Linked DNA regions of Homo sapiens: region 2 is linked to region 1. A link means that fine-mapping ties the variant in region 1 to the expression of a gene that starts in the linked region. Tissue or cell type: whole blood. Region 1 holds a variant in brackets; the other region holds the start of a gene. All regions are shown on one strand. Distances are from middle to middle.

The links. PIP is the estimated chance that this variant, and not a neighbour inherited with it, causes the effect.
Region 2: it holds the start of TWIST2, and the variant in region 1 is fine-mapped to the expression of TWIST2 in whole blood (TOPMed, PIP above 0.99). The same link has a PIP of 0.9 or more in blood mononuclear cells.

What each region holds. Positions count from the first base shown.
Region 1 is chr2:238,943,467-238,951,324 of GRCh38, forward strand. No RefSeq gene overlaps it. Among named protein-coding and RNA genes, the nearest start is that of LINC01940, 21 kb to the left of the region's middle. The variant G/A (reference allele first, on the strand shown) is at 4,735.
Region 2 is chr2:238,843,894-238,851,751 of GRCh38, forward strand. TWIST2 (twist family bHLH transcription factor 2) reads left to right here and starts at 4,192. Exons shown (of 2, transcript NM_001271893.4): 1 at 4,192-4,840. The coding sequence starts at 4,323. The coding sequence ends at 4,805. LOC100287387 (a long non-coding RNA gene) reads right to left here and starts at 4,014. Exons shown (of 1, transcript NR_157851.1): 1 at 653-4,014. RefSeq lists enhancers at 2,128-2,638, 2,639-3,149, 4,683-5,192, 5,193-5,703.

The DNA of each region.
Region 1 (7,858 bases):
TTCCTAGGAAAGTCTCCTTCAGGACCGGTGGTCGGGGCACAGTGCTGGCACGTTTGTCACTAACGCACGTTTTACTGCCTCATGTGCCTCTGTGTGTCTGTCGACGTCTCAGCATTCTTGTGCACGGTCAGTTTGGGGACCTGTTCTACAAGAACCCTATTTCATTTTCCCTCCCCGTCTATTAACTCTACCCCAGCAGTGATTCTGATTTAGATTTTATGACACTTTACGGAATGGGGCAGAGACAGACGACTTAGTATCTCTGCCCCTCTCCCTCCGCCCTCCCTGGTTCACTCAGCCACTTCTAATCAGGCCCTGCTACGTCTGGGTCCCACCACAGATCCTGCTCCCAACTGGGCTGTCTGATTGGGCTCAGGCCCAGGCCATCCTGCCAGTCTCCACCAAAGTCAAGGCCCAACTGGAACAGCGGACTGGGATGCTGAGATATGGACTGGGAATAGCCAAGTCCATGCACATGAAAATGTGGGAACCCTGGATGCCCTGACCCACTGGAGCTGTGGACATGCCCCCTCCTCCCTGGTTAAAACCTAGGGCTCTGCCCTTGCTTGGGGAAGACACAGAGGCCTCTGCTTTACAAGACAGCACACACACACACACACACACACACACACACACACACACACACAACACCCCACACAAAGGATTAATCCCCACCTCCCCTCCTGGTCACCAGACAACAAGTGGATTTGAGGGGCAACATCACCCGACCAGGGCCTGCAGGGCTGCAGGGGGAGGAAGGGGCCACACGCCGAGCTGTGGAGTCACAGGAACGTGCCAGTGAGGGGGTGCCAGTGTCCCTGAGCTCCGTGGGGTGCATCCTCTTTAGGCCAGGGAAGGTTGGGGGGATGCTATTGCAGAAGGGGGCTCCCAGGCAGAAGTGAAGATGACAGAATCCTGGAATGTTAGAAGCTAGCTATGGCACTTCTCTATCAGCCGCAAGGTGGGCACAAGCATGGCAATGAGTGGCAAGTTGGAAGGGAGCCAGGAAGGCCTTTCCCCCTAAGAACTATGAGGTGGTTAACAGATATGGCACATCTGGGGCAAAACAGACAGGCAGCCAATAGATGTTCCCAATAAAAGTCATGATCTTGGCCGGGCGCAGTGGCTCCTGCCTGTAATCCCAGCACTTTGGGAGGCTGAGACAGAAGAATGGCTTGAGGCTCGGAATTCAAGACCAGCCTGGGCAACATAGTAAGACCCTGTCTCTACAAAACTGTAAAATAAAAATAAAATAAAATAAAATAAAAGTCATGATCTCTTGCCCATCATATGTGATGTAGAGGAAACACATTGTACTAGGAAAAGCTCTGGATTGAGATTCAGAGAATTCAAAGGTGAGAGATGGCAGATCCCTGATGACCTGGCTTTGAAATCAGGCTCTGCCATCTCATGGCTGGGCTATCTTGGGGCCAACACTGAGACTCAGTTTCTTCCTCAGAATGCTGAGTGTCTTAGTCTGTTTTCTGTTGCTTACAATAGAACACCTGAAACTGGGTAGTTTATAAAGAAAAGGAATTTTTTTTTAAGTTATGGAGGCTGAGAAGTCCAAGGTTGAGGGGCTTCATCTGGTGAGGGCCTTCTTGCTAGTGGGAACTCTTTGCAGAGTCCTGAGGTGGTACAGGCCATCTCATGGTGAAGGGGCTGAGCATGCTCGTGTGCTAGCTCAGGTTTGCCTTATAAAGCCACCAGTCCTACTCCTGTGATAACCAATTGATCCATTAATCCTTGGATGGATTAATCCATGTATTAGGGGAAAGCCCTCATGACCCAATCACCTCTTAAATGTCCCACATCTTAATACTGGCACATTGGGGATTAAATTTCGACAGAATTTTGAAAGGGACAAATATCCAAACCATGGCACTGAGATAATATTAACGGCCACTACCCCACCCTTCTTACATGGTGGTTGTGAGCAGCACATCTGGTCATCCATAAGACCACATCATGGACACTCCAGGACAAGGACAGGCCCAGACCTGTCTTTCGACCCCACCAGTTGCTGCTGGCCTAATGCCTGCCAGAATCTAGATTCCAAATGTCATGGGGCCTAGACAGTTCAAGGACACACCTTCCCAGAGACCAAAAGCCCCTTCCACCTTTTTTATTTTTAAGCAAGGGCTACTGGTTGACAGGAACTGATCCCCCAGCACCATGGCCACAGCCCCACCCCTGGCTGCAAGCTCTTGAGTTTTTTGCAAGCGAGAGCTGGGCTGACATCCTGGTTGTTGGTTTTCTTTCCATGTAAATTCAGTTCTTGCCTCCCTTTATCCTTGATGTATGTCTCAGAGAATTCTCCAGGAAGAACAATTTTCTGCCAAGCACTAGAGCAAAATCTGGATTTCACCTAAGATTTTATAGGGAAGGGCAGAGGACTCCTGCAGCCTACCCAGAGGATACCCTCCAGCCTGCCTTGCTCTCTGGTGCCACCAGCAGGCAGGCCCCACTCTGCACTTCCCTCCTTGGCCGTGGTTCACTGCTTGTCCCTGTAACAGGGCTGTGGCCTCAGCCCTGCAAAACCCAAGCAGCAACACACGAGCCTTGGAGGAAACCCTGCTGGCCTCTGCTAAACCAGCAGCTTATTATTGCCAGTTACTTACTGGTGCTAAGTGTGCCCCTGAGGGTCTCATCGCCCACCCAATCTGGTTATCCTGTTCCCACCAGCTTCATAAACGATGTCCCCTAAGAAAAGATTGAGTAAGTACCACTTTCTCCATCTTGGTCTGTTATGGGATCTTTAGGGTGTTGCTTTTCTGGCCAGAAACCTCTGTGGCCAGTGGTACCTTTGCCCGAGTTCTTGTCCTGTGTCCAGGAAGAATGAGGTACACAGACAAGTAGAAGGTAAACAAGATGAAGAGGAGTTTTATTGAGTGTTAGAATAGCTCAGAGGAGACCCACAGTGGGTAGCTCCTCTCTGTGGGAAGGTCGTCCTGTTGAGTGTTCAGTTCTCAGCAGAGAGGAGGCCCTGGAGTGGGCGGTTCCTCTCTGCAGCTGGTTATCCTGTTGTCTGCCGCTATCAGCAGAGATGGTAGCTCCTCTTTGCAGCTAGTCATCCATCCTTTCTGTCATCTCTCTGTCCTCTGTCCTGCTCTGGCTGAGCCTGGGGCTTTTTTGGGCCTCAGAGCAGGGAAGTGCATGCTGATTGGTCCACAGGCAGCCATGCATGGGCCCAGGAGAAAGCACCATGATGTCCCCCTCTGGTCCTCAGAACTGGCAGCCCAGCCCCCAGGCTTTATGCCTGCCCTGGCCTGAAGCTGGGGCTTCACTGGGGACCCTCCCCCTTCTGCCCAGGAGCCTGTCTGCCTCCCGTGGCCATTCATGGCACCCAGGTTGCTGGCACCAAGGGGCACCTGCAGGCCAGTGCCCAGCTGCCCTCAACTCTCCTTCAGCTTCTCCTCCCATGCTCCTCAGTGCCCAAAGTCCAGAGGGGGCTGAAGGGGCAGGGGGCTGGCATGTCAGCACTGCCCCAAGTGTGTGCACACCTGGTTGGGCTGTGAAAGTGCCTGGGCTTGGCCCCACCTCTGCTCTGAGATCAAAGTGGGTGCCAGGAGTGGGGAGAGGCTAGGCAGCAGGACCAGAAACCACTGAGCCTGCAAGGACAAGGGTTCCTTCCCAGGCCCCCTCAAGAGTGCCTTCCCAGGCCCCCCCAAGAGTGCAGGGATGCCTAGGTCTGCAGCCCCAGTTTGGGTGGCTACAGCTGTGCCTGGGGCAGGGGCGGGGCTCCTGCCTGCTCTGCAGAGCGGGATGCCCAGATCTGCAGCCACAATTTGGGCGGCTGCAGCCCCCTCTCAGGAGGGCAGAGCCCCTGCCTACTCAGTGGAGCAGGAGGCCCAAGTCTGCAGCCACAATTTGGGTGGCTGCAGCCCCCCCTCAGGAGCACAGGGCCCCTGCCTGCTCAGTGGAGCGGGAGGCCCAGGTCTGCAGCCACAATTTGGGTGGCTGCAGCCCCCTCTCAGGAGGGCAGAGCCCCTGCCTGCTCAGTGGAGCGGGAGGCCCGGGTCTGCAGCTTTGGGCAGCCGTGCTTAGGGCAGAGTTTGCAGCAGCACCTGGGGAGCTCCCATCCCAACTTGGAAGAGGTGGGGCTCTCACTTGTCTCCAGCTCCCGCTGGTTCCACAGAATGTGCAACCCCAGCTGCACCTCCCTGTTGCAGCTGATGTGATGGCAGCGGCAGGCCGCGTGGCACAGCCACTGCCATCAGTACTAATACAGGTAAAATAGATATGCAGCAAATTAGGTACTTACCATAGTGGGTTGAAGAGTAGCCTGCCCTGCAAATTCATGTCCACTCAGAACTCAGAGGGCAACTTTATTTAGGAATAAGGTCTTTACAGATGTAATTAAGGTGATAATCTTGAGATCAGATTATCTGCATGCGGGGTAGGCCTCAAATCTCATCACTGTTGTCCTTATAAGAGGAGAAGAGGACACAGAGACACAGAGGGAAGGCCGTGTGAAGACAGAGCAGAAGGCAGAGATTGGAGTGCTGCAGCCACCAGCCAAGGAGGGGCGGAGCCACCCAAAGCTGGGAGAGGCAGGAAGGAGCCTCCCCAAGCCTTCCAAGGGAGCACGGCCCAGCCCACAGCTTAGTTTTGGACTTCTGTTCTCCAGAGCTGTGAGATAGTGAGTTTCTGTCATTTTACGCCACCCAGTTTGCAGTTACAGTGGCCCTAAGAAATTAATACCCAGGCACACACAACCAAATCCACAAACAG[G/A]ATGGACAAGGCCCCCTCAGACATCGATGAAAGCTCCGTTTTGGCCCTGACTGGTTTCTCTTCCTCTTCCCTGGTGTGGTTAACCTCACTGACTGGTCCCAGCTTCACCTCCAGCTGTTGGTTACACTCCCTGACCCACACTGTTTCCCAATGGACTGAGGATTTCTAGATTATTCTCCATGGCTGTGAACATTTTCAGAGTTTGCAGTTCATTGTCAGCTAAATGCAGATTGAACTCTGAGTCCGAGATCACACCTGGCAGGTGCTCTCTGCAGAGTCACCCACTCTGAGCGCCGCCCAGGAAGTGTTGGTCTCCAGAATGCTCTGCCTCTCTGCAAGATGAAAAGAGTTTGAAAGACCTTCCCAACATGAGTCAGAGATAGAAGGATGTCCAGGCATCGTCACTCTTGAGTCCTCCCAGTTACTCAGCACCAGTCACACCATGACCACATCCTGGGCTGCTGGACCCAGCTTCCCCTCCCCTCCTATGGCCATCCCACTCCCTCCTCCACTCCTGTCCCCACCTCTCCATCCTTTACCACAGCAGTCTGGAGCAAGGTTTGCTGTGAAACTGTTTCTTTCTGTATGTGGCCAGTAAAAGCACTTTAAAAATTTGTTGAGTTTTAAAAATTGGGTGATTTTTCATTGTAAGTTGTGTGCAGTATTCCATTTGTCATCCCTGAGGAGGGATCAGAATGTCTGGACTGAACACTTGCACGACATTAGATTAGCTCATCATTGGTGCTGTGGCTGAGGCTAGCTCACCATTGATGTGCAAATGAGGCTAGCTCACCCTCAGTGTGTGGATAAGGCTAGCTTACTTCTGGAGCTGTGGATGAAGCTAGTCACCGTTGGAGCCACTGATGAGGCTAGCTCACTGTTGGTGCTGGTGCTGTGGATGAGGCTAGCTCACCATCAATGTACGGATGAGGCTAGCCCACTGTTGGAGCTACAGATGAGGCTAGCTCACTGTGGAAGCTATGGATGAGGCTAGTTCACCATTGCGTGTAGATGAGGCTAGCTCACCCCTGGAGCTTTGGTTGAGGGTAGGTCATCATTGTGTGTGGATAAAGCTAGTTCACTGTGGAAGCTGTGGATGAGGCTAGCTCACCCCTGCACCCATGCCTGAGGCTGGTCACTGTTGGTGCTATGCAGGATTCCATCCTCATGCCATTCTGAAGGGGGCAGATTCTCCCCCTGGAAGCCACCTGCAGGGTGAGGGAGCACTGTCTCCCAGGTGGTTTCCTGGCAGGGACGGCTCCACTCTGCATCCAGCCTGGCTGTGCACCAGCATAGCTCACTGTGTTTCTTTCCTCTAAGATCATCCCCGCAGCTAAAACCCTGTGGCCACTTTTCCTGGGTGCTTTTCCTGCCGGAAGACAGTCCTGTTTAGGACAAACTTGCATTCCTTTGTTCCCAGCTGACTCAATGTTCAAACAATACAATAAAAAAGTGTCTTCCTTAAAAAGAAAAAATTCAAAACCAAACCCAGTCCTAAATTCTCACCAGGGTAACTATACTGGATTCTTTGGCTCCTGAAGCTCCCAAAGACCCTAAGCATGACATCTCCTCCTGGCATGTCCAGGTCTGGTGTCTGCAGGCATCAGTTGGGCCCCTGGAAGGTTCGCTGGAAGTGGTGGCCTTTGGGATGCAGTTGAACGCCTGGGTTGTGAAGATCTCTTTACTGGAGCAACTGGGGCGCACTATCTGTCTGGGGGTGCTGCAAGATGGGATCTTAATAACCACATGCTGCAGGTTGCCAACTGTCCTTCTGGCCTGTGTCCAAGACCAACGTTTCAGAATCTGCCTTGGTCCCGTGGGCCCCACATGCCCACTGCCTGGAAGAGCAGAGGGGACTCCTTTCCTCAGGCATTGCAGGCTTGGTATGCCCTTGGTCCCTGAGGCCACCATGTAAGCAGATGCCCTCACTGACACCCCTTGAACCCTGGAAGGGGGCCCCTGATAAACCCCCCATGGGGCTGTCTTTGAACTTCAGGGCTGCTGGAGCAAAATGACTTCCTGGGAAGCCCGCTGGCCTCGGACGCAGAAACCTGGATCCTGAGTGGGCTTTCTCTGGCGAACAGCTCCGGCTTTGGACAAGTTTATTAACCTCTCTGGCCCTCAGTTAGTCCATCTGAGACAGGGGCAAGGCCCAGGGTTAACCTTCAGGAGAGCCTACAGCTCCAGATTGAGCTGCCTCCTGCTTACAGTTAAAACATTGATGAAAATTTACCAAAACACAAAAACTGGCCAACCACACTAAAACTTGGTAGAAGAGCCAATTACTAAAGTATGGGACAGATGCTGATTCTGCCATCAACAGAAATGTGCTGAGCCGTCATCCCGAGCTGCGCACACTGCAGGCGGCATACTGAGCCGGAGGACGGAGGAGCAGCTCCCACTCACCCCACTGGCTGCTCACCCTGGGAGGCCCCCAGCTGCCCGATGTAGAGCTTCCATCCTCCTCCGGTCCATCAAGGGACCACCGAAGCCTGGACCCTGCTGGGTTGAGCAAAGGAGCTGGGCTTTTCCCTCCTGGTGCGTCACGTGACTTTAGGAAGGGCTGTGAGGCGGGCACCTGGAGGGACAGCTTCCTTTGCAGAAGAATCTCAGCCTCTCCATGACTGCTGGGGAGACCAAAGTCCCCAGCTTGGGAGCAGGCAAGATCTCACCTCCCAGATGCCAGGCCAGGGCTCTGCCGCCAGCCCTTGCTCTGGCGTAGATGGTGGAGCTTGCACACAGCGGGACCCGCCCCTGCAGAATGAAGGCAGCCCCAGAAAGAAAGGGCGAGGACACCATCTAAATTCCTCCCTGGACAACAAAGATCACAAGCAAAGCTCTGTGAACTGGGCAGGGCAGGGAGGCTCCATCAGTGTTTGCTGAGTGAATGAATGCAGGAAAAGAAACTTAAATCCTGAGAGGGAAGAACAAACCTGATAAAGCATCTCAAATGAGCAAGAGAACAGAGATTAAAATGACAAGAAAACCATTTGCTCAAATAATAGGAAATAAAGATACACATTAAAAATAAGAATTGACAAATAAGAGACCAGACCCTGTGAAACTTCTTAAACATCATTGGAGAGCACTTTCACAATTACCAAGGCTGTGTGAATTTTCTTCT
Region 2 (7,858 bases), 100 kb before region 1:
GCAGGTGGTTGCAGGTAGGCATAAAGTATTGCCAGAATAAAGCCAACAATACATGGCACAAGGATAGCTTTTTCCCAGACAGCATATTTCTAGCATTCAGCAACATGATGCTGAAGACCCCTAGAATCTACACAGAAATGCCAAAACTTTGTCAGATAATTCTCAAGAGTCCATCTCTGAAAACTTGTGGTTTCTTAAAATAATGGGTCATGTTCACTGTCATCTCAGTCTACGAGAGAATAATTCAAAATGAAGGCACCAAGACTAGTTTGATGGAAAAGTGTCAGTGGAGCGCTGTGTTAGTGTAAGACTGCTACTGCGCCAATGCTATTTGCTTTGCAAATAAGGAAGTGCTGTTTGGGAGATGCTGTTACCAACCCCCGGATCAATGTCATTGATTCATTAATCTGTTGGATTGATTCTGTCACACAAATATGGGCTGCTCTGTCATCTGCTCTCAGTTCACTAAATTCAAGTGGAGGTAACAACCCACCATGTCACTGGGAATGGAAACTAGACCTTTAACGATATCTTGGTTTTTGTCTCTTGCTCCAACAAGAACTTCATAGAGTTAAACTACAAAAGGATCTGCTGAAGAGCTCAGGTGGGTTCACCCGTGCAGGCATTTTGACAAAAGGTAGCGACAACAGCATTCAAATGTATAAATTCATTGCTTTATTTAGCTCCTGAGAGTTTACTAAATTTTTTTCACATCTGAGCAAGTACACAGTTTCTTATCCTAAGAAAGCCCAGGGGCTGTATAATTGCGTCGTATTCTTTTTTCTTTCTTTTCTTTCTTTTTTTTTTTTTTTGACACAGTCTTGCTCTATCGTCCAGGCTGGAGTGCAGTGGCATGATCTTGGCTCACTGCAACCTCCGCCTCCTGGGTTCAAGCGATTATCCTGCCTCAGCCTCCCGAGTAGCTGAAATTACAGGCATGCACCACCACACCCAGCTAATTTTTGTATTTTTAGTACAAATGGGCTTTCACTATGTTGGCCAGGCTGGTCTCGACCTCCCAACCTCAGGTGATCCACCTGCCTTGGCCTCCCAAAGAGTTGGGGGATTACAGGCGCGAGCCACCGTGCCTGGCTGCTATTCTTGAAGACTATCCCCAGGTGACAATCCCTGCAGTGTCATTCTACTGCAGCAAGATTAAAGCCAATCTAATAGCTGGCAAATTTGCTGTGAAAACATATCACCTTCTGTTACTTGCTGCCCTAAGGAAAATGTGCAATAGAAGAATCTTTCAGAACACCAGTTCATTTTTTTTTAAAAAACACAAAGTCACATGAAACAAAGCACACTTTTTTACATATATGAAAGGAAGCATTCACAGGATTTTCCATACTCAGTAATGAATAAGTACCCCAAGAACTGTATTTACTTCTGTGAATCTTTGTTGCGTGATATTTTACTGAAGTCCAAGTGAGCCTGGGTGGTCCTGCAAAGAGTATTCACACAGAGATATATTGTATTACTTATGCTATTAATAAATTGGCTTTATTAGCCTTATCACTGACTTAATTTTTGAAAGAAAAACTCAAACTAAATCAATAACCTGAGTATTATTTCCCAAATTGATGACATTTTCATTTGGGTTTTAATTCAGCAAATTCCCCTCCTCAAAAGAGGGGAATGCTGTCACTTCCCCAGCCAACATACAGGTGACATTGGAAACGCTGCTAAATGCCACTGTGCCTTAGCTTCTCCTATGTATGCAAGGGGTCACTGCCCAGGTAATGACTCTGAGGGGCTGGCAATACAGCATAAGAAAGTCACTCCAAATTCTGTTAAGCAAGGTTTTCCGCAGGCAGCCGTCAGTATCACAGCCTCCAGTACTATAATCATTGTTAAAGCATTTTAAAATAGACAAGACACGCCATGAAGAAAGTGCATCCAGACGGTTGAACTGGGCTGCTGGTTATGATAGCTCCAGGGCGCCCCGGGGGGTCGCAGGTGAAATCCTCCAGGTCCATCTCCCCAGGCAGAGGTGAGCCTGCAATCCAGCTTGCGCTGCCCTTCCAGGGCGTCCCCGGGGCCTCTGGTCTTCAGGGCTGGGCTGAGCCCTGGGCTGCTCAGGACCAAAGCTGAGCTGTTTTTCTTTCAAACTAAACTATGAACTCTCTCTGCTGGAGAAAGAGACAGAAAGGACAGAGAAAGAGACACGCCGACAGAGCCAGAGTGACACAGGGGCACGCAGACAGGGAGACGAGGATGGCGAAGCAGGCTACCAGGCAGGTCCTCTCCTCAGTAAAAGCCCTCCGCATCTGGGAAAGGGAAGATGTCCCTGGATCTGGGTCCTTGGACCCACACAGGGTTGGTAAAAGGGCAGCAAATCGCTACTGTCACTGCTCTGAGCAAAGAAACCAGGGAAAGGCCAGTTCGGGAAAAACAGGCCCTTTCCATCTGACGTGAAGCCCCAGGAAGGGCTGCAGCCCAGCACCGGCAGGACGGCTGGGGACCTGGCTTCTCTCTCTCTCTCTCTCTCGTTCCTTAAATTTTTATTTGAGAATTTTAAAGAAAGGGACCTGGAAAGCTATTTTGTTGGGCTAGAGGGGCCGTGGGCCTTCCCAGCGCGGAGGAAGGAGGGCGGTCAGGCCGGGTGGGGCTGGGTGCGGTGGCTCTGCAGAACCTTTAGGCACCGAACTGAAGCCGCGGGTCCGGTGCGCGGACACTGCGCAGGGCGCTGCTACCGACTCACATGCATGCGAGGGCCCGCTCCTAGGCGTTCTGCCTTCCTGGACGGATTGTTGGTAAAACGTCCCCTAGAACGGCCGGAGCCAGGGCCCTCGGACAGGGGCGCGAAGGGCCCGCTCTTTGCCGTCCTCGGGTTTCCCAACGCGGTGGTCGTGGCCCGCGGGCCCCACCTCGCGGCCCGCCTGGCCGGCCGGAGGAGCAGCGGAGGCCGAGCACTCCCCGGTCTCGGGTTCAACTTCAATAAAAGGGCCCAGCCCGCCCTTGATCACGCGGCTTGCCTGACAGCCCGGCTCAGGCCCGGGCCTAATTGAGCCCGGGTCACCTGGGAATAGGTTCAAAGGCATCAAAGCCGTAAAAACCACCTCCAGGCCCAGAGCCAGAGCGGCCTGGCGAACAAAGAGCCCCCCAACCACTTCAAACGCGCTCGCGCTCGCCGTCCAGATGGCCCGGGGCCGGGGTCCGTGGTGTCGCTCACCGAGGCCGGGCCCCACACTCCAGCCACCCTGAGCCTCCTGCTCGGAGCTGCCCGCGGGCTGCCAGCGCAGCGGAGGCTGGGCCCGGGGCAGCCTCGTGCAGCTCCCGGAGCGCCCTCCGTCCTCTGCTGACCCGCGAAGCGAAGGCGGAGCGCAGAGGCTGGGGCCGTACAAGGCGGGCCGGCAGGCGCCCCAACCCGCGCCCAGCAACCCGGGTAGGGCCAGGCAGGCGGGCGCGGCGGGTACCGGGCGCTCCCGCAGAGGCTCGCTGTGGCGTTGTTTTAAAGCTGTTAGAAGGAAGGTTCGGGAAGGGCGTCGGGGCCGGGGCTCCCCAGCAAGCCAGGGTAAGAAATGGTCCCCGACACGCACGCTGGCCGAAGGGTGGCATCTCCACGGATCTTGGCGGCATGTCCTTGGGCACGGGCGTCTCCAGGGGGCCCCGACTGTCCTTACACTGGCGGTCCGGACACCGAGACCCCTGCCCGCGCAGCTCCCCAGACCCCAGGCCTAAGCTTGCGGGCCGCGGTGCAGACTAGCTGTGCGCCCGGGGGCGGCCAAGACCCACACAGGTCGAGGAGGCTCCTGGCTGCGTCCTCATCTTCTGGGAGCGCATCTGGGACTGGACTCGCCTCTCTAGCCCCTCACGCCCAGAGAGAGAACCCCCCAAAGCCCAGTGGGGGCCGATCTCTACGTTGAGGCGTAGACAAAGCCAGGCTTGGCCGGGCCTAGGGCTCGGGGCGGCCTGAGAGTGCCCTGCGTTCGGGGTGGGGGCGCGGGCGGCGGGCGAGGACCCGGCCCCCGGGATGCCCTCCGCGCCGGGGCCGAAGGGGGAGGCAAAACTGAAAGTGCCGCGCCGGGGGGCGGGGGCGGCCGGCGAAGGCCCCAGAACTTGTCCTGCCCCCGGCCACCGCGGCCAATCAGCGCGCCGCCCTAGCTCCTGACAACTATTTAGCAACCCAGCCCAGCTAGAGTTTCCAAAAAAGTTAGAATAACTTCCTCTCCCGGAGACCTCGGTTTTGCACAAGCCGGCCTTGAAATCAGAGCCTTTCCAGCAACTCCGAGAGCGTGTGCTCGGCGACCGCGGGCTTGGCCAGCGGCGCGCGCTCGGCGCCCCGGCGCCCCCAGCCCCACGCGCGCCGGGCGGGCGCCATGGAGGAGGGCTCCAGCTCGCCCGTGTCCCCCGTGGACAGCCTGGGCACCAGCGAGGAGGAGCTCGAGAGGCAGCCCAAGCGCTTCGGCCGGAAGCGGCGCTACAGCAAGAAGTCGAGCGAAGATGGCAGCCCGACCCCGGGCAAGCGCGGCAAGAAGGGCAGCCCCAGCGCGCAGTCCTTCGAGGAGCTGCAGAGCCAGCGCATCCTGGCCAACGTGCGCGAGCGCCAGCGCACCCAGTCGCTCAACGAGGCCTTCGCGGCGCTGCGCAAGATCATCCCCACGCTGCCCTCTGACAAGCTGAGCAAGATCCAGACGCTCAAGCTGGCCGCCAGGTACATAGACTTCCTCTACCAGGTCCTGCAGAGCGACGAGATGGACAATAAGATGACCAGCTGCAGCTACGTGGCCCACGAGCGCCTCAGCTACGCCTTCTCCGTGTGGCGCATGGAGGGCGCGTGGTCCATGTCCGCCTCCCACTAGCGCCGCGCCACCCACCTCCGGACCGGCGCGCCAGGGTAGGTGCTGCGCGCGCGACGGGCGCCCTCCGCTGCGGGGGGCGGGCGGCAGGGGCGCAGGGGCATTGGGGCCTGCTCGTGTCTCCTCGGCGAGGCCCCGCGGGCCGCGGGGGCTTGGATGCCGTGCGCTTTTCCTCTTAGCAAGGAAGGCGGGCGGGCGGGACGCTCACAGTCCCAGGGACACCCCTGAGTGCAGACTTCCACGCGAGGGTGTCAGTTGGGAACCGGCGGACCGGTGACTCCCCCGGCGGGTTCTGAAGATACTTAGACAGATGGTCGCAGTTTTCATTCTCGGTGGTGTGTGGGTGTCCGTGGTTGGCGGTGGAAGGAGCGAGCATCAGAAAAACCTCCTGGGGCCGGCTGGGGACTGGGATATGAGGACCAGCTGCCCTTTGCGTCCGCCGCAGCGCAGGCCGCCCGCGAAGCTGCCCGAGCCGGGTGTTGCCGGGCGAATGGCTTCGCTTTCTTCCTGGGCAAGGGTAGAGCGCGTCCGTCGGGCGGACACTCAGATCTACCCAGCTGCTCGCGCCTGGGGTCCCCGGCCGTCGGCGCCCTGGCCTGCCCAGTGGGCGTAGAGGTGCGGGCCTGCGGCTCCAGGGTTTGCCTGGGGAGGACGGGAGGAAACTGCCCTGCGCTTCGGGGCCAGAGCAGCCACAGGGCCGGGTGTGCCCGAGAAGGGCCCTGGGCCGAGAGCGCAGAGCCTGGAGCGCTGAGGCAGGCGGGTCCGACGCAGCCGCGCGGAGCCCCAGGGCGCCCGCAGGCAGGTGGAGCTGACCTAGGAACTGGGAGCCCTGAGTCCCAACCTTGACCCTGGAGTACCCGGGAGGGGCCCCGCCCATCCAGCCCCGCAGGGATGGGCGAGGGGTCCAGGCTGGGAAACGGGTCTGGGGGACAGGGAGGCTGTGCGCGCCGGGCCCTGCGCGAGGAGAAGGCTCGGGGGACACAGCTGCCAGGAGCACTCCAAGTTCTGGTTTCCTCTGGAAGAGCGATTAGGGCGTCCTGCACCGGGTCCTTTTCACCAGACACCTTCCAAGTCCCTTTAGACAAGCTCGAGCCACGGAGGCGCCGTCCTTAGGCTCTGTGAGCAGGCGAGCCCCTCTCTCATCCGCCATCCAGGGCCATGGAGGGGCACAGAGTTCTTTTTGCTGGGGCCGAGTTAAAAATCCTTCCCCCTTAGTATGTTTTAGTTCCTCGCACATCTTGCGATGTTTTTATAAAAGACTCTACTTCACACAGAAGGAATTTAGATTAATCAAGAGCACCCGGCCGCCTATTCTCCCAAACATATCTATTTCTTTTTTTATGTGGTTCTATAATATCTGCGAATGTTGTTGCTGAGGCCACGAAAAGCTGATCCAGCACAGGTGGGTTTTATTTCATTTTTTTAGCTTTTATTTTGGTGTCACTGAAAATTCTGTAGCTGCAGAGCCTCCTGAGATAATGATAATTGTATAGTTTTTAAAAAATAATTTTCAGCAGAAAATAACTTGTGGGAATCTTCTCCTGTCTTTGTCAAAAACAGATGGAAAGTGTCTCAATCACATATTTCTCTAGGAAAGTTTGGATTGGCTGAGTACTAAACGCTACAGTGGGGTAATACATTAATTCTGGTTTTTGCTGCCTAAATAATGAGCTTCCATTAGTTACTTCCATTTATGCTTTACCTCATTCATGGTTTATAGCACATCTGAAATAAGAACAAACAGATGAGGAATGTCATCTTTTTAAAAACACACACATTGAGCCGTGTTTAAGGAAAATGTCACTTTAATTATCGTTAAGACTGCCCTCCAGAAAATTACTGAAAACAAATACCAGTAGATATGATGCTGCTAGAATTTAGTAGGAACATTTAAAATTCATTTAAAAATAATCGCACTCCTCAAAACTTAGAGAATCAGCCATAGGTAACCATTAAAGATTATAGAAAAATAAAATGCAATACATGTAATAAATAAATAAAAACAGTGCCAAGAGCTTGTTTGGAAAAAAGCCCTTGAAAATATAATAGATAATTACACAGTTAGTGGGAGAGCTGATGATCTATAAGGAGCCTATTTATTTTTATTTTTACATACTGGACTATAACTGAGTAGTTCAAACAAGCTAGTTTCATTAAATAGATACTCTAAAAGAAGAGAAAAGAAATATGGAAAAATTTTATCCATGAATGATTCTGGACACACCTTGTTTTTATTTATCAGGCACGTTAGGCAGACATCTTGTCATTCTTTTTGTCTTTAACTCATTATTCCCTATAAGATCAATACGATTATAATTGGTTTGATTTCCTGAAAATGTTGCTAAACAGCATTTGTTTTTATTTGTAGCATTTCTAAGAAGCATTAATTATATGCATCAGCAAAGAATCTCTAGACATTTCAGTACATTGTAAGTGATTTTAATGTTTGATGTGGGATGTTTTCACGTATGTGAAGAAAACTGTCAAGACTAACAGCAACAGCAGCACAAAGCCTAAATTGTCCTCTGAAAGGAAGAGAAACGCAAGAGATGGTGGAGTGCGGGTGCTGCCGATATCTATCCTGCCTTTCTTCTTTGGCCTGGTATTTAAAAGCACAATTAGACAATAAATCAGGTGTCTTTGTCCAGTCAGTTGGATTCATCTAATAGAAAAATCTCAAAAGGATTTTTTTAGTATTCTCATTAAATGCCTGAGTCTTCGGAGCAGGGTCCCAGACACCTGGCTTGGAGGGTGGGGGAAGGTGACCATTACTTATCAGACATTTGTCCTGTTCCCTGCTGTGTGGTTAAAGAAAACATCTTCTCTAACTTCTGCATAGTGTGCACAGATTTTCAGTAGATTTCCTCACTCAACAAACTTTTTTTTTTCTGAGAACTTTTAGCTACTTTGAAGAAATTGCATGACCCCTTCACCATCTAATATATGTGAGCCTTTTCCTCCCTCCTGAAAATTTACTTCTCATAGGTGTTTGTTAACTGCTGTATTCAGGATGCTAGAAAATCAGTTCTTCGTGGAGAAGAACAGAAATGCAGAAT